Linked DNA regions of Homo sapiens: region 2 is linked to region 1. Evidence: fine-mapped expression QTL. Tissue or cell type: whole blood. Region 1 holds a variant in brackets; the other region holds the start of a gene. All regions are shown on one strand. Distances are between the middles of the regions.

Region 1 (10,121 bases):
TTTAGTTATTTTAATTTTCAACTCCAGAATTTCTGTGTAGCTATTTTTAAAATATAATTTCTGTGTCTTTAATGATATTCTCTATTCGCTAAGACACAATTCATACTTTCCTTTAGTTATTTAGACAAGGATTCTTTTAGTTCTTTCAACATATTTACAATAACTGACTTAAAGTGTTTGTTTAGTAAATACAATATCTAGGCTTCCTTAGCGACAGTTTTTACTGACTACATTTTTTCCCTTTGTGTCTTATAACCTTGTTGAAAACTGGACATTCTATAATATAATAATTGTGGAAATCAGATTCTCTACCTTCCCCAGGGATGTTGTTTTTGTCATCTGATATTTTTGATCCTCTTCGTGTAGCAGCTTTGCTGTATGAATTCTGCAAAGTCTCTATTTTCTGTCATGAACAGCACTGAAGTCATGGCTTGGTTAGTTTACTGGTCAGCTAATGATAGGACAGAGATTTTCTTAAATTGATTTTTTCTTCAAACAACGTATCCTACCCTTTGCAGAGGAGCTCTGTATGTATTAGGGCATGCCTTTAGCATTCAAGCAGTTTAAAGCTGTGCCTCAGCCTTTACTTTCTGCTTAGAGATTAGGACCTTTCTAGGTTTTCCTGGGCACATGCACAGCTTTGCACATGCATGGGGCCTTCTAGATCCCCAGTAATACATTGAAGCTTTTCCAAGCCCACTAGGAACATCTCATTCTCATCTTCCTTTTTGCCCAACCTCTTGTTTGCCTCAATTGTTATCTTGGCCTCAGGCAGTTGCCATGTTAGGCAATTAGTTTCAACAAATGTTCTGGAGACAAGACTTTTCCTGTTGAACACTGGATGAGGTGAAATAAAGAAAAGCCTTGCTAATGGAGATTTCCCAAGGAGCTGCCAGACAGATTATATATGTGGGGACAAGCATTGTGAGGAGATCCAAATCCAGTTAACTGTTTCTAGTAGCTACTGGGCTGCTTGGTTTCACTACCATGGCTGTGAAGCTGCTGGTGTTCAAGGTTATTGTGGAACCGACAAAAATGAGATGAGAATAGGGCAGGTTAAAATGGTACAAGCCAGCGGAGGGCGGTGGCTCATGCCTGTAATCCCAGCACTTTGGGAGACCGAAGCGGGCAGATCACCTGAGGTTGGGAGTTTGAGACCACCCTGACCAACATGGAGAAACCCCGTCTCTACCAAAAATACACAATTAGCTGGGTGTGGTGGCACATGCCTGTAATCCTAGCTGCTAGGGAGGCTGAGGCAGGAGAATTGTTTGAACCCAGGAGGCAGAGGTTGCAGTGAACCGGAGATTGTGCCATTGCACTCCAGCCTGGGCAGCAAGAGTGAAACTCTTCTCAGAAAAAAAAAAATAAAATAAAATAAAAATAAATAAATAAATAAATAAATAAATAAAATAAAATGGTACAAGCCTTTCTGTTTTTTACTGAGGTTCAGCTATTTTCCTTGAAGAAATTCCCTGCAGAGTGATGGAAGTTTTGGGTTAACTTCTGGAATTTCAAAAAAAGGTAATTTAGACAGTTTTTGCAAGTGCTCTATCATTGCATTACAGATAAGCAGATTTTTGAGGTCCTAATTGTCATTCTGAAAGTCACTGCACTGTAAGAATGTTTCACAACTTTATATTTTTCACGTTTCCACTGGGACATGTCACAAATGCTGAACCTGTAAACTCTTGGAGGTGGGAATTTGCTCACTTACTGGATGGAGGTCATCTTCCTCACGACTGGATGGTTCTTTCTTGGACCTCTATCCTCAAATACCTCAACCACTGTCAGTATTCTGAAGTGCTTAGGGCCTGGGTAGAGGTTGAGTTCCTGCTTTTTTTCTCACTAAGGCATCAGAATGAAGCCTTTGGATCATATTTGCTCTTAGATAGCCTTCTTTAACTTCATCTGAAGTTATTTGGTGCTGAGATAGTAAGGCTTTTGAAAATTTGAGTCAATGTGCTGTGCTCTCTAACAAAATCATATTTTTTTTCTAAATCTTTGTTTGGGTTTAAGGATTTAAAGGATATTATATATTGCGTAGCAATAAATACATTTTTTGCGTAAATCTGGGCTGATGGGTTCCCTAGAATTTCCTTTCCACTGTTTTCTATTGTAACCTTGCAACTGTAAGCTCCAGTAACTGGGATGTTATCACAGTAACTCAGCGATAATGAATGAACAGCACATCTTTTAATTGGAACTGCTCCTTCAGAGCAATAATTATCATTGGGATGCAGGCATGAGAGAGTAACTTGTATTTTAAAATGAAAAAGTCCAACTTAATAGTTCAGTGACTGTTCAAAACAGAGAAAGAGAGCATCATGATGAAACAGAAAAACAGAGAAAGAGAGCATCATGATGAAACAGATGAATGCTACCGGTGAATAAGGCATCGGCTCTCAGTTGACTTCAAAATCTGACTTGGCTTAACTTCTTTTGTATGTCGTGAACTAATGGGGAGAAATATGCATTTGTTTTATTATGCCATTATTTTTCACATTCAATTAAGACAAAAAGAAATTAGATCAAACTATATAGCAGTGGCTAATCCTCAGACTTTTCTTAACAGAAGAAACTTTTCTGGCAAAAGTTTCCGTATCAAGGTTGAGTCACTCGACTCTATTTCTCAATTACTTTCTTGGCAAGACAAATGTGTTTTTGCAAGAGAAAACTAGTGTTGTATTTAATTATCTCTGCAGATAGAATACATCAATACAATTTTAATTAAGAAATTCTTTGAGTATCTTGGAAGCATGCTATTAGGAAGGCTCTTGAAACTTTTAAGTAACAAAGACACCTACAGGCAATGTTTTAAATGCGTTTTTCCTTCTTTTTCTCTTCACTCAAAGGGAACACTATAGTTGCCTTGATGATGTACCTATTTAGTTATAAAATTGCATATTTTAATTGTGTATCAGTCTGTGTTCATAACAATACTCTATATGTAAGAAAGACTCCTTTGTTTTTATAATAAAATAACAAATTTTATTATTTAAAACTTACAGCATTAGAATTATTCCAATTCGTCCCAGTCTTTATCATAGTTGTTTCTGTAATGTATGTGCAAATCTACTAGTATTTGAGGCATTATTTGCAATTGTGAAAATAGTAAACATGACCAGACAATAAAAACTTGGAGTCGTGATTCTGCCATTGTAGAGTGATAACAATCTGAGCTAACCCTTGATATATTTATAATATCAAGAGAGATAATATGTTGAAATACTTTAGAAATTAAGCATAATTCAAATGTAATGTGAAATGACTAGCTTTAATACTAAGTTCCGTATACTTACTGGAAACTGGCTTTTATGCAGAAAAAATGATGTAATCTTGAGCAGATAACAGTCACAAGAATAATACAGATTTTAGAAAATAAGATAAAAAGTTTTTATTTTATTTCTGAGGTAGACTGGAAGAACTGTGCTAAGAATAGGTAATCTCAAATATATGACATCTTGGAAAGTGAATTGCTCAATACAATCGTTAAGGTAATGAGATTTTTGTTTTTAAAAAATACATTTGCCAATATCTTTGTTAAAATCCATATTAATTGCATATCTTTTTGACTGTTCATTTTAGAAGAGCATAATTGTTGCCAATATCACTGCGTTTAGGTAGACAATGAGAATCTGTTTTGGTCTCTTAAAAGCTTTTATAAGTATAAATGGAGCATGAAAGTTAAACTAATGTCAAAGAAATTATCTCTCCAGCAATAAACTAGATGGCAATTTAAGTTCATTTGTTTCACAAGATGATCAATGTCTTTTTTATAAAGTATCATATCTTTACAACTAACAATATATCATTCTGATGAGGTCTCAGCTGAATACATATTTATAATTTTTTAGATTTTTTTCTGCCTTCAGTAAAACTACCACTGACCTAATC[G/T]TTTTGCCTAGTCTAACCTCATATTTCAAAATACAAACACTGCTCACCTCATCACCGTTGGGAATAACAAAAACTTTCCATAAAATATAGAGAATGGGAAGCTCTAACATGGGGAAACTATTTAAAAAGATAAGTATATATTGTCTGACTGCTATTTCCTACTTGACCTACCAGTATAATTTTGATAAAATTTACCAAACATGTTTGAAAAGTGAGATAGAATAGAAAAAAGATGTTTGTCCTATGTATCAGAAACCTATATTCTGCCCCTAGCCTGATTCACTCAACCAAACAAAATATATCACCAATACAGTTGTACCTTAACCCAATTATCAAACATGCCTGTAGCCTCAATATTATAGTATAATTATATGTATTTTTGTAGGGTGGTGGTAGAGATAGAGATTGGCATAGAAAGTGACAGTAATCTTCATTGAATTTAATATTTCTTAGTTTTAGAAAGTGTCCACAAATATATGATCATAACTTCATTGTAAATCTTCCTTTGTAAATGAGATAATTAAAAACTCAGAGTTGCTTCATATTGAAAGCCAGTAAGTTCCCCATGACAACACGGTAAAGGCCAGAATTTATCATATTACCTCTGTAGCAAGAGTTCAAGATCATTTGAGATTGTTTGTACTTAACTACTTGTTATATTATTAACATTAGTGCATCAGTACTAATATTATTAATGTAAAGCTTATATAAAATGATATATTAACATTATTAATAGTATTAATACCTGTGTACTAATATTAGTATTATTTGTGTCATTCAAGCATTCCTTGTGAAGAATAGTTCTGAAAGTAAACCATGCCAACATGCTACAAGAGTTTTCACCTATAAAACAGGCTTACTGGGATTTTTAGTGAATATTCAATATTCTGGTTATTGGATTCAGAAAGGCATTCTTTAAATCTTCATTCTCAGTATTATATGGGCTACATTTTTTTTTCAGATACAAAAAATTATGTGATAATGTGTTTAAATGGATAAGTTAACGTATGTACTTCAGGCTGAATTTTCTTATAATGAAAGTGAAATAGTTGTATAGAAAAGAATACAGCATACTAAAAAAGTGACAGCCTTTGGAACCATAGGAACATTATTTCAAATTCCACTTTGAGTTTGAAATTTTCCATATACTAGGTACTTAGCCTTGTGACTTTTGGTGAAATGAAGAAACTAATGCTACCTTGTAGCTTTATTGAGAGGGTTAACAACCACAGACAGAACAGATTCTCCTAACATGTAACTTTCCTTCTCCTTCTTTGCATTGGCATAAAAAACTTTAAACATTATTTTTCTTATCCAGGAGCAATATAAGTGTATGGCACCTGAATATTTTAATTTATTCAAACTTTAATGATTTCTTATTCTTTCATTAAATTAAAATAATAATAATACAAAACACGATACTACTTTAAAGTGAAGCAAATACAGTTGGAGATACAAAAAGGGAGACATTCTCTTGGTGTACTGTGAATTAAGTTGTTACCCAGGCAGTATCAGGTGTGGATTCAGAAAACATCATTTTGAAAAACTCAAACAGATAATCCTTTGGGAGAAAAAATGTCAATGATCTATTGTAGACATAGCTACTTCAGTTATCATTCATATTAGATAGGAAACCATGTGGAAGAAGTAGTGTAAACACTACTTCAATAGCTCAATCTTAGAAACACAAATGTAGTGATAGAAATGACACCTATGAGAGTTAGTGAAACACCAGAACATATTTATTATGGAAGCACTCTAGAAAAGAAATGGGATTGCCTGCAGAGTTGCACTATCAAAATGTAATTTTCCAAGTAGTCAGCAAATCACATACCTGAATTGTGTTCTCACATATTGGGCAGAAGAGCACTAATCAAACACGGGATTCTCAGAAACAATTCCACACAGTCCTTATAGCATGTGGAGATCATTGTTCTGAAAACAGGCGTTTCTAAATAAGCTCAATTGAATATGTAGGCACATTCTTTAACCTCAATGATTAATACTCCTTGGAAATTGTTGGTACAGTAGAACTCTGACAGTTTCTTAAGACACACCTTTAAGAATTCATGTGGTGGGCAGATCACTTGAGGTTAGAAGTTTGAGACCAGTCTGGCCAACATGGTGAAATCCTGTCTCTACTAAAAATACAAAAAAAAAAAAAAAAAAAAAAAAAATAATAATCAGCTGGGGGTGGTGGTGTGCACCTGTAATCCCAGCTACTCAGGAGGCTGAGGCAGGAGAACTGCTGGAACCTGGGAGGTAGAGGTTGCAGTGAGCTGAGATCACGCTACTGGACTCCAGCTTGGGCAACAGAGCGAGACTCCATCTCAAAACAAACAAACAAACAAGAATTCATGTAGCATAAAGTTTTCCCCAAAAGTACTGATGTTTTATAAACTTTCTTGTTTGTCTCTGTATAGGTCAGAAAAAATGAGTTCATTTAGATTATTAATTGAAACCACTGTAGAATATAATATTTCATTGTATTGTTTTAACCCTAGGATGTTTTCCACCTAAACATCATCACTTTCTCAGATTTAACTATTTTCTTACTTCAGTCATCAGCACTAGGAGTTGATTTTTTAAAACAGAAATAGATGCCTTTCACAAGGACAGCTATTTTTAATTAAAAATTATTTTTATAAGTGTTAGTGCATATAGAATAGAAAGTAAGAATAGTATGGCCATACTGAGATACAAATAGTAGGTGATTTGGGGGTTAACTTCATAGCCAAAGGCCTGAATAGGGCATGAGATTTTAATATGACTCTTATTCCTATTTACATCTGTGGACTGTGTGGAGTTGTTTCTGTGACTCTTGTGTTTGATAGTGCTGTTCTGCCCAGTATTTGAGAACAAAATTCAGGTATGTGATTTACTGTGTACTTTGAAAATTGCATTTGATGATACAACTGTGTGGCACAATTCCATTTCTTTGCCATGACTTATCCTAAGTCCACACGACTAAGCCCTCTTCCAAAAAGGTGGAATCATAAATAGTATACTTAGGTTTGCTGTTGGTTTAATTACAGCATATTAGTAAAATTGAATAAAATAATAATCAGCACATATTACAAATTAAGAATCAAAGCGTTTTTCTGTACTTGTCTATAGTTCCCTGAGAAACCAACAAACTAAATGCAATTGCTATAACATTTCATTTTTTATATGCATAACAGCATTACTTTATTATTTTAGTCTTAAGTTGTTTAAAAAAATCTTATACTCAGGTTCAGATTCAAGTATATATCATGACTAAATATAAGGGGATATGAATTATCCTGAAGTATACTTCTAGCATGCTAGTTCCTCCACTTCAGTAATCCAGACATATGATTCTAAGATGGCCAAATCTTCAAAGGTAAGCTTTTTTTTTTTTTTTTTTTTTGTCCAAGGCAACTGTTCCTTCATTTTCAATGTGTTCCTGATTATTAGATATATTGGAAGTATTCCTGCTGTCACTCTACTTGTCTTAAATTTATTCACGGCTTCAGTTATTCTGATTTTGCCATAACTTTCTTCTAAATAACTCATTTGTTTTCCATCCTTTAGTTCATTTTTTTCATCTTTTACATGTTTATTCTTTCCCGTTAGTCTCTACGTATTCTCACTTGTGTTTCCTTGGGTTTCCTGGTCTTTTTCTCATCTTTCTGAATAATAATTTCGAGATAGTTTACCAAGTTACAACTGATTAGAAAATAATTTCTCTATGTTTTGTGCTCTTATTTAAGATGATATGACACCAATTAAATGATCTTGATATAATTTGTGGCTGGCCTTGTTGCCAAAATACTAAAATTGTAAAACACTGAGAATTCAACGTACAACTATAAACATTTCTGTGACTATTTCTACGGCATATATTTTTATAAAATAGGAATTATGGGATATCTTCAAAGGCTATACTTATTTACGGAGCACCTACTCTCTTCCAAGCATTATTGTATAGTTACAAAGGAAAAAATGCCAATGAACATCTCTGCCTTCAAGGATTCAAAACATTTGCTTAGGGTGTAGTTAGGTAATTTGTCAAATATAGCTCCTCTCCTCTCCTCTCCTCTCCTCTCCTCTCCTCTCCTCTCCCCTCCCCTCCCCTCCCCTCCCCTCCTCTCCTCTCCTCTCCTCTCGTCTCCCCTCCCCTCCCCTCTCCTCTCTTCTCCTCTCCTCTCGTCTCCCCTCCCCTCCCCTCCTATCCTCTCCTCTCGTCTCCCCTCCCCTCCCCTCTCCTCTCTTCTCCTCTCCTGTCGTCTCCCCTCCCCTCCCCTCTCCTCTCCTCTCCTCTCCCCTCCCCTCCCCTCCCCTCCCCTCCACTCTCCTCTCCTTCCCTCCCCTCCACTCCCCTCCCCTTCCCAGACCTCAGCGATGATCTTGAGCAGTAGGATATGAATAACTCCCACATCCTTAGCATTCCAATAATAGAACACTAGGGGAAAGTCGGTTTTAATGCACTCCATTTTGGCTTTTGCACCCATCGCTCCATCAAAAATCCTCTTAGCATTGACAAAAGTAACCTTCATATTGTTAAGTCCAATGCCATTCCCAGTTTTCCTCTTATTTGTCAGAAGGATTTGGTGGAGTTATTTATTCTCTACTCCCTAATACTCTTTCATCGTTTGCCTCCCTGGATACAACACTCATTTGGTTTTCCTCCTTCTCTGTAGCACACCTTTTTAATTTTAATTTTTAAGTTTTTTATTTCCATAGGTTTTTGAATAACAAGTGGTATATGGTTGCGTGAGTATGTTCTTTAGGGGTGATTTGTGAGATTTTGGTGCAACCCTCACCTGAGCAGTATCCACTGAACCCAATTTATAGCCTTTTATCCCTCACTCCCTTCCCACACTTCCCCCTAAATCCCCAAAGTACATTGTATCATTCTTATGCCTTTGTATCCTCATAACTTAGCTTCCACTTATGAGTAAGAACATACGATGTTTGGTTTTCCATTCCTGTGTTACTTCACTTAGAATAGTGGTCTCCAATTCCATCCAGGTTGCTGCAAATGCTATTAATTCATTCGTTTTTATGGCTGAGTAGTATTATATATACACCATAGTTTCTTTATCCACTTGTTGATTGATGGACATTTGGGCTGGTTCCATATTTTTGCAATTTCAAGTTGTGCTGCTCTAAACTTGTGTTTGCAATTATCTTTTTCGTATAATGACTTACTTTCCTCTGGGTGGATAACCAGTGGTGGGATTGCTGGATCAAACGGTATTTCTACTTTTAGTTCTTTAAGGAATTTCTGCCCTGTTTTCCATAGTAACTGTCCTAGTTTACATTCCCACCAGCAGTGTGGAAGTGTTCCCTTTTAAACACATCCGTGTCAACACCTTTTTAGTCTTAATGACTGTTTTTTCCTTTTTTCTTTCTCTCAGAGCCCATTCCAATTTTAGCCTTCTGTATCTCAGTTCATAGCAAGTCTAATGTTCCCAAAACATTGGAATTATCCTTGATTGCTATCTTTTTCTCACACCCATTACAATATGCTGGGAAATCTGGTGACCTTCCAGAATGTGACCACTTCTCATCACTTCCACTTCTGTCGTACAGATCTGAACAACTTTTATCTCCTGCTTGGATTACTGTGCTATTTCTGTCTTGTTATCCTGTAGCCTATTCTCAACACAAAAGCAGGAATGATTTTCATAACTGAAGTTCATGTTAATTCTGTGCTGAGTGTCTTACATTGGCATACGTTTTACTCAAGGTAAAGGCAAATATTTGAATATGGCGCATAACACTTCGCACAATCTTGTTTTTGCTACCTCTAGAACAGCAGTTTTCAATTGCTGGCTGATTTTGCTCCCCCAGGGAAAATGTGATAATTTTTGATGATCATTACTGGGTGGCAATGGGGGTAGGGAGTTGGGGGGCTGTGGATGTTGCTACCATCCAGTGAATGGAGTCCACGGATGTTGCTAAATATCCTAGAATGTCCAGGTTACCCCGTTACATCAAAGAAATATTGGATTTAAAATAGCATTTGAGAATCCCAGATGGAAAGCCTCATTTTCAAATGTTCTCCTTTTTCTCTCAACTCCAACACTGGCATTCTTGTTGACCTTTGAAAACACAGGGATTGTGGAAACCTCTCAGTCTTTTCACTTTGTTTTCCCTCAGCGTGGAAAATATTCCTTCTAGAAATTCACATGGTTTGCTCCTTTACTTTTTCCAATCTCTGTTCTGATGTCCTATCTCATTGGGTTTCTCTTTGA
Region 2 (10,121 bases), 370 kb after region 1:
TAGCATAAATTCTTTTCTCTCATTTGGGCCCCTAGGCTGACATTCCATCATGATTTCACAGACTTCTGGTTAAGAATTTGCTTAATGCATTTTGCTCTGGCTTAAATTAATTGACACTTTTACAAGTTTGAAACTCATTTAAACTACATGGGTCTTTCCTACAATTCTGAAGCCATAGTTCCCTAAACACAGTGCAATGTGCATTTATGTTTTTAAAATAGCACATAAAAGTGATCTCATATTCACTTTCATTTCCTTGCATTTTTGTATCTTCTTAGTTAAGACATCATCACGAGGAAAGGGTGAATTGTCAAATGTTGCTTGCAGGAGACAGCTGATCTTGCAAGGAAATTAGTCATTCGTATTTTGGGCATATGTTATCCATTCTACTTCCCTAACTGTCTAAGGACAGTGTGACTTTTAGGGTCTTAGGTATGCTTACTTGCCTTTTAGTGTGAGGTTGTATATTAATCTAGCTAGGAGCTGGGTTACGTCTAACATTTCCTGTAGATACAGCTGTCAGAAGCTAAAATTACCTGTAGTGTCTCTTTGTTGCCTCTACTGTATTTAGGTTCCCCTACAAACTTCCCTTTCAAAAAAAACCTTGCATCTCTTTCACCTGTCATCCACTGTTATCATACGGGAGCTCTGTTGACGGAGGGGTGAGATGTGGGGGCGGGGTGAGGTGTTCTATAGTCTTCTGATTAAATCTCAGTCTTTTAGTGGGCCCTTGTCCCCGGACTGTGACCTGTGACCTTCATGAGCGTTTCTAAACTTTTTTTTTTTTTTCCTTTTTCTCTGCCAAGTTGAACTGCAGCTGGAAGACTAGAGGGAGCGAGCATTGAATAGTTACCCTTCAGCTGCCTAGCTAAGATAACGCTCTGATAAACTCTTTTCACTGGGGAGTAAGCCTTTGTTACAGGAAATGCTCTACGTATATTTTAAAATCATTAGATTTCCCTTCTCTCTGCCAGGGACATCAGGTGATATTTTTTGGTATATACTGTGAGAACCAAGTTGTATTCCTGGAAGTAAAGCCTGTAAGTGTTTAGGGGGCGCCTTGAAGACTGCAGCCCCCAGGAGGCTCCAGTGCTCACACTGGTCCATACTCAGCCTCTTGCCAAATTCCTGCTTAGGTGTTCCTGCCAGTTTGTGGTTCCACTGGCATCAGCTGCAGGTGATCTGGTGTCTGCTGTGATGCTCTGTAATCTCCTCTCTCTCCCGGTTTCAGGCTGGTAGTTTCCTTGAGACCTCAGTTCTCTGATGGGTCCAAGACGTCATTGATTTTTAGTTTCTCCAGCTTTTTTCGTGGTGTCGAGATATGAGTGATGACTTCCAAGCTCTTTAGATGTTGAAGCTGCAACTAGAAGTCTTCCATGAACTTTCTTTTAAAAATAGACAGTATGGCATAGTGCAGTGTTTCTCAAAAGAAAATAAATATATTGATCTCTATACCTTATTAAGTGTTGATATATTATTTTATTATAATTTTATGTTAAAATAGAGAAACACGAATTTAGACCTAAACACTGTAAGCCTACAGTTCTTAACCAAGTTTTTGAAATATAATGCATATGTTAATTAAATTTTAAAATCTCGCAAAAAAATTAAAATTTTAACTAACACCACCAATTTAAGATTGTGTGGGCAAGCCAAAATATTATTATAGGTTTAATAGAAGGAAGATACTATTCAATTCTGATACTGTCCTTGGTCTGTTTCTGTATTTGACTTCAATAATTCTCATATAGGAAAGTTCTGTTTAATAAGGCTATATAAAATGTTACTGGTACCTTCACAGTTTTCTGCTTATGATTATCAAAGAAAAAGCTCTGCCAATATGCAATTTTTCAATGTCAATTTTATTAAAGAATGTTTTGATAATTCTGTAAATGCTTTATAATCCCACAGCAATATGTGTCCGTTGCAGCATTATTAAAATCTGTATTTATATCACTATTTACTTATTGCTTTGAATTAAGAACATGAAAAATTTTATCTCGAAACTTTATCATATATATATCATACAATAAATAAGTCATAATGTATTAACTATATATTATGACTAACAACCTGCTGTAACTTTAGACATACAAAAATACCTCTTAATGAGTGTAAAATGTTAACTCTTCTTTTGAGTTCAGTATACCTGTACCACAGTGAGTCCTAGGACATTTGAATCAATTCTCTCAAGCCATTTGCCTATTTGATTATGAATCTCTGTTTGGTCACTGGGCATAATCTTACATGGACCTCATTCTAGACACATATATCCATAAGCAACAAAAATAAAGTAATTGGGATCCATCACAATAACTATGAACAAAGTAACTATCCACATGATCTGGAATTTGCCCATATTTGTGGCTTGTTTTCTGTATACTGTTTTTGATGGAGATATTATAGTCCCCTAATAATACATATACCTACTTCAGCTTAAGAAAAAACTATATTTTGCCAAATTTTGTAATCAGACTGGGTTTAAATACCAGCTCTGATGACTCATAACTCTGATCTCGAGAAATTTACTTACCATCTCTAAACATTAATTTCTCAATTAGGGAAGTGATATGACAAAGTTGCTGTGAAGTCAAATGAAGGAATGAATGCAAAATCCCAACCCTTTACATATTACCTCTGTTCTCAATTAATCATTGGCTTGAACTGAACATTTTTAACATGGTTCCCTGCTAAAGGTGTTTTTACATATAGTAAGACCTAATAGATAATATTATGTTACATAATCTATAATTATTATATATAAAACTATATAAAATTATATAGTACCTATTTAGACATATAAAAAGGGAAGTTTTTTAATGAAAAATTAGATTGGCTGAAGAGTGTGGAAATCATCACATAGGGAAGTGGTCAGCACTGTGGATATACACCAAACAGTATTACAGAGACATACTGAAAATAAAGCACACTGACAGAAAGAAACCTCATTAGGATAGAATTTTGGGAGATTGGTGTCTTGTTATTCCCAGAGTCTGACTTTTCTAATCACGTAGCATTGTCAGGGATATCTAAATTTTAAACTTCAGATTTTGTACAAAAAAACCTAAAAGGACTATATTTTAAAATAAGAAGCATGTACAAATAATTGTAAAGGAAAGAGTGTGAGTTTTGTAGTCTCCAGTTCTGTGTCAGTAAGAATTTGATGAGGAATAGCCAATAGCATTTATGCTGGTCCAGGCTGGATCAAATTGTGATCGTACTTCTAGTCTTCAAGCTGCCTGGTTAGAAATTATGCAGCTTACTTTGATGCCTGTCCTACTACTACTATTAGCCTTTTAGTGGTTACCTTAAGAATAACTGAATAATACTGTTACTTTGCATCTCTCAAAGACCGTGCGCTGTTCCCGCATACTTTCTTGCAGACGTATTGTCTTCTGAAGGATGGTGCCCATGGGCACAGCAATTTGGGGCATCTTTTGGTAGGAAGCATGATTTCTCCTGTTTGGGCACAAAAGAGTGACTACGGAATATAAGCTAAACACCTTCTCCCAGAAATATCAGTTGTAAAACTTAGCTCATTAATGTAATGTTGAACGTTTTCATGTGAGTCATACTTGAACTTCTTGAATGTGAGTAAATAACGGAGTTGAATTGTATAAAACCCTGATGGATGGCAGAAGGGAAAGAACATCCCTTTCATCTGATCCATGCCTGAGATTCCTTCCCTCTACTATACTACTGGAAATAAACAACTTGTCTGGTGCTCTAAAAATTAATGCTATTATCATTATAGAGAGAACAGGAGTGAGTGCTTTTAGGTTATTACTTGTTCTTACTAAGGCATCATATTCTTTCTTCACGTGTTTTGTGTTTGAGGCTAGGGATAAAGGTACAGGAAAAAGGATCTAAGAAAAAAACTCGAATCTCTAAACATGGAGTCTTTTTTTTTTTTTTTTTTTTTGAGGTGGAGTCTCACTCTGTTGCCCAGGCTGGAGTGCAGTGGTGCGATCTCTGCTCACTGCAACCTCCGCCTCCTGGGTTCAAGCAATTCTTCAGCCTCAGCCTCCCGAGTAGCTGGGATTACAGGCGCATGCCTGGCCAATTTTTGTATTTTTAGTAGAGACTAGTTTCACCATGTTGGCCAGGCTGTTCTAGAGCTCCTGACCTCAAGTGATCCAGCCACCTCGGCCACCCAAAGTGCTGGGATTACAGGCATGAGCCACCACACCTAGCCAAACATGGAGTCTTTACTCAACATTATAGTAACGTGAAAGAGGAGATCATGAGAATTAATGTATGTTTTAGAAGGCATAGATTACTTATAAAAAAGGAAAGATCAGGCTGGGCACGGTGGCTCGCGCCTGTAATCCCAGCACTTTGGGAGGCCAAGGCGAGCGGACCATGAGGTCAGGGGATCAAGACCATCCTGACCAACATGGCGAAACCCTGTCTCTACTAAAATACAAAAAATTAGCCGGGTGTGATGGCACACGCCTGTAGAACCTGGGAGGCAGAGGTTGCAGTGAGCGGAGATCACACCACTGCACTCCACCCTGGTGAGACAGCGAGACTCCATCTCCAAAAAAAAAGGAAAGCTCAATCTGCTGTAAATTATGTGCTTGTTTCAACAACCCTTGTTTCTTTTCCTTTTCACTTCTCTTTTTTTTTTAAAGCGGCCTAAATGGGGTGAAGAGTGAGTTATCTGACAAATTTAGATTTTGCAAACCTGTGCATTGATGAGAGTGCTATTGAAACACATTAAGAAAGATTTTCAACGCAGGAATGTGTCATTTCCTTTCTTCATGTACCAGATGCTGAAATACTATGAGATAAAGATTTTAGGTTTCAATTGTAAAGAGAGAGAAGTGGATAAATCAGTGCTGCTTTCTTTAGGACGAAAGGTAAAGAAAAAAAAAGGCTTATTTTAATGTTTTTTCCAGAATTGTTTCTATTGATTGTTATGTGTGTACTCTGTGTGTGTGTGTGCATGCATGTGTGTGATATATATTTGTGTGTCTGTGTGTGTATGATGAGATGAATGCTTTATTGTATCAGCAATAATTTGGTTTGGTTTTTTTCGATAATCAAAAAATAGGGATTTCTGCTAAATTTTCCATGAGTGAAAAACATATATGTTCACAAGTACATATGAAATACACTAAATGCTTTGTAGTTTGAACCAGCAATGGGGTTTTTTCATATAATTAAGCATATTTTGTTTAAAATACTGGTTTTATTCAAAGTATAATTTGACATATTTCACCTATTCTCCTTTCATAACTTTTCATGGAACATTTTTGGCTTTAATCTAATGCCTTTTATTATCTTCCCTTGATTATATAGCAAATATTGGCTGGGTATCTACTATATGCACTTCATTGAACTAGATGTGGGGAAAGGATACAAAAAATAAGATATAGTTCTTTTTGTGCTCCGGAATCTTATGATTTAAAACATATCCCCAAATAGGCATAATGTAATTTGAGCACCTTAAGTAGTATGAAAGTACTATAGATAATTACTAGCACCTTAAGTAGTATGAAAATGCTATAGATAATTACTATGAAAATATAGGCGAGGCCAAAATTACTTCTATGTGAAAAAAGTCTATCAAAAATAAATCTTCATGGAGATGCTAGAAATCTGATTAATCTTGAAGACTAAGTAAGATTCACACAGCATATAATGGGAGGTTGGCATTTGCACTGACCAGGTAAAAATACTTATAGAAAAACCATAGAACTGAGATTACAGATGTTTTATGCAGTGATTAGCCGTTTTATGCAGTGGGTAAGAGCTAATCTTCTGGGAGTAGACTGCCTGTGTTCAAATTCCAGCTCCCCTGCTCCCTAGTTGAGTAACTTGACTAGTTACTTACACATTTCAGTTCCCTAACCTGTAAAATGGAGAAAATACTACTTGTACCTCATGAAGATTCCGTGAGAACAAAATAAGAAAAGCTCATATTTAAAAAAAAAGTGATATTTTAAAATAACAGGGATTCATATATTGATGGTTTTCTGTGTACCAGGCAATTTACAAAAATTATTTTTAATTCTCGCAATAATTCTTTAAATTTATATTGTGATCATATTTTACATATCTAAAGAAAGTTCAATTCAAATAAGTTAAAATATTTGCCTAAGATCACACAGCTAAATGATGTCACAGTCAATACTCAAATCTAGATTTCAGATTCAAAAGTTGATGCTCTTTCTTCTTTGCTACCAAGGATGAATATCAGTGACATCAGGCACAATATAAATATTTCCATTTCTTACTAAAATCTGTCTTACAGACGGGTTCCTTAAGCATAAAGCTGTTAGTTTCACAAATAATCTTAATTTAATTTTCATTTTATATACACATTCAACTGCTGTTACAAAAATCAAAGTTATTATTTTATATAATAAGGAGGATCACAAGCTTATTATTTATTCCAAATGTTGAAGATAAAGTTGGCCTTAAGAATATGATGGGCCGGGCACGGTGGCTCACGCCTGTAATCCCAGCACTTTGGGAGGCCAAGGCAGGTGGATTACCTGAGGTCGGGAGTTCAAGACCAGCCTGACCAACATGGAGAAACCCTGTCTCTACTGAAAATACAAAATTAGCCGGGCGTGGTGGTGCATGCTTGTAATCCCAGTTACTCCGGAGTCTGAGGCAGGAGAATCACATGAACCCAGGAGGCGGAGGTTGTGGTGAGCCAAGATCACGCCATTGCACTCCAGCCTGGGCAACAAGAGCGAAACTCCATCTCAAAAACAAAAAGAAAGAAAGAAAAAAGAAAGAATATGATAAAAAAACTAAATAGGGAAAAATCTTAGGAAAACGAATGCATGTCAAGTATGAAAAGACAGATGGTAAATATGTATTAAACATAAAGAGCTGATTCACATGCTTAGGTAAAAGAAACCTGTGGGGATGTATAAGCAGTGAATATGAATAGATAATAACCCAAGAAGAACAATGTATGACAGACAATTACAGTGAAATCTCTCTCTTACATTAATAATAAAAAATAAAAATGAAAACCACTTTTAGGTATTATTTAACTCTTATCAAAATCTAAATGATTCTAAAATAAGCTTTATTATTCAATGGTAGTGAATTTTGCTTGAAACTGCCATATTCACATATAAGTCTGGAATATTTATAAATTTATGTTATCTTTTTAAAGATCACTAAGACAGTAGAGCCCAAGAAGTTCAAAATAGTTTTCCTTTCACTTTTTAGTTTCACATATGATGAATTATCCTAAAGAAACATTTTAAAAGAAGAAAGCTAAATTATGAAAATAATGGCCGGGGCAGTGGCTCACATCTGTAATCCCAGCACTTTGGGAGGCCAAGGAGGGTGGATCACCTGAGGTCAGGAGTTTGAGACCAGCTGGATGAACGCGGTGAAAAATACAAAAATGAGCTGGGCATGGTGGCAAACGCCTATAATCCCGCTACTCGGGAAGCTGAGGCAGGAGAATCACGTGAACCCAGGAGGCAGAGGTTTCAGTCAGCTGAGATCACACCATTACACTCCAGCCTGGGTGACAAAGCAAGACTCAATCTCAAAAAAAAAAAAAAAAAGGAAATATTTATAACATCATTATTTATATCAGTGAAGCATTGCCCCCTGGGAAAAGGAAAAAAAGTTTAAAAGAAAAAATTATATTTTAGAAAAATGGCTGTATTTTTTATTTAGAAAAATGGCTGTATAAATAAGATTTTATATATATATAAAATATATATAAAATAAGATTTTATATATATATAAAATATATATAAAATAAGATTTTATATATATATAAAATATATATAAAATAAGATTTTATATATATATAAAATATATATAAAATAAGATTTTATATATATATAAAATATATATAAAATAAGATTTTATATATATATAAAATATATATAAAATATATATAAAATAAGATTTCATATATATAAAATATATAAAATATATATAAAATATGATTTTTTATATATAAAAATATATATAAAATAAGATTTTATATATAAAATATATAAAATATATATAAAATAAGATTTTATATATATAAAATATGATTTTATATATATAAAATATATATAAAATATATATAAAATAAGATTTTATATATATAAAATATATATAAAAATATATAAAATAAGATTTTATATATATATGAAATGTAAATAAGATTTTATATATATATGAAATGTAAATAAGATTTTATATATTTGAAATATAAATAAAATAAGATTATATCTAAATATATATAAAATAAGATTTTACATATATGAAATATATATAAAATAAGGTTTTACGTATATATGAAATATATGTAAAATAAGGTTTTACGTATATATGAAATATATGTAAAATAAGGTTTTGCGTATATATGAAATATATGTAAAATAAGGTTTTGCGTATATATGAAATATATGTAAAATAAGGTTTTATATATATAAGCAAGTCTTTGCTACATAATAATTCAACACATATATATATGTTGTTTTATATATATATATATATATATATATATATATGTATGTGTGTTGAATTATTAGGTAGCAAACACTTGGAACCAACCCAAATGTCCCTCAGTGATAGACTGGGTAAAGAAAATGTGGCATATATACACCATGGACTACTATGCAGCCATAAAAAAGATGAGTTGATGTCCTTTGCAGGGACATGGATGAAGCTGGAAACCATCATTCTCAGCAAACTAACAGAGGAACAGAAAAAGAAACACTGCATGTTCTCACTCATAAGTGACAGTTGAACAGTGAGAGCACGTGGACACAGGGAGGGGAGCATCACACACCGGGGCCTGTCAGTAGGTGGGAGGCAAGGGGAGGCATAGCATTAGGACAAACTCCTAATGCATGTGGGACTTAAAACCTAGATGATGGGCTGATGGGTGCAGCAAACCACCATGGCATATGTATACCAATGTAGCAAACCTGCACGTTCTGCACGTGTATCCCAGAACCTAAAGAATAATAAAAAAAATTTCAAGTTTGAAAAATTCGTTTGAAATATTAAAATAATGAGGTGATTTTAAGGAAAACGCGTAATACCAAATGATACGTGCATGATGATATGAACTATGTTACAGGTATACATACATCCAAAGACTCGAGTTTCATTTAAAAAATTAAGGGTTTTTTTCCTTTATTAGGGTGATGAGATGACAGAAATTTCATCCTAACATATCTATAATATTATTAAAATGTTTTATAATAAAAACAAAAAAGTAAGGTATATGGTTCCCAACAAATTAACCTTGAAATTCTTTCATTATGAATTTCCTGTAAACTTTTCATCCACTTGATAAAATGCTGATATTACAGAAACGTGTTTCACTTCTCATGAGCACGTGCTTTTAATAGATTACACAAACTCCAAGGATTTTACAATCGTTTATCAGCACACTGACATTTAATAGGAAGAGTAACTTTATGTGAAGCTACTTTTTGTCCTAACTGTGGAACTGATATTAAAAGGCACACTTGAACAGTGTGAGTTGTTCACTGCCTGCTAATGAAGGCTCATGCAAGTATGTATGTTCACGTTACTAAAAAATTACAATGATTATAACCAGAGTAAGCAGCTGAAATAATCTGGTAATTTTAATAATAAATGCTTTTGAAGCAAAGTGGGTTCACTGAGGGTAATATTTTTTGTTTCAGTTTGCTAGTTACGTGCAGTGCAGAGAGAAATATTTTATTTTCCAATATGTAACAGAAGAATTTTTAAAATCCCTACTTTAGTGAACCACAAAGTTTTCTTGAGGCATAACCTAAGATATAAAATCCAGTCATCTTGAAAAATATCTTGCCTTTCATTTATTTATGTAATTTTAAATACGGCATTATGTATGTAATGAGCACCTTCAGGAACTCTCTGATCCCTGAACCAAAGAGATCAAAAGTCCACATCATGGATCTGGCTTGGATGAGAGAAGACAGATGATAGACAAGACAAATAAGGAATATATGTTTTTGGGGGAAAGAAAATGAAGCCAGGGTGGGGAAGACAAAGCCCCAAGGGGTTGTAGGTTGAAAATGGATGTTCAGGAACAGTCAGCTTGCTTGCTTGCTTGCTTTTTCTTTCTTTCCTTTTTTTTTTTTTTTTTTTTTTTTTGGAGACAGAGTTTTATTCTTGTTGCC

What was found.
Region 2: it holds the start of MSR1, and the variant in region 1 is fine-mapped to the expression of MSR1 in whole blood (INTERVAL, PIP above 0.99).

The regions. Positions count from the first base shown.
Region 1 is chr8:16,552,677-16,562,797 of GRCh38, reverse strand. All of the region lies in intron 6 of LOC101929028 (a long non-coding RNA gene), which reads left to right. Among named protein-coding and RNA genes, the nearest start is that of MSR1, 370 kb to the right of the region's middle. The variant G/T (reference allele first, on the strand shown) is at 3,898.
Region 2 is chr8:16,187,339-16,197,459 of GRCh38, reverse strand. MSR1 (macrophage scavenger receptor 1) reads left to right here and starts at 4,809. Exons shown (of 10, transcript NM_138715.3): 1 at 4,809-4,862.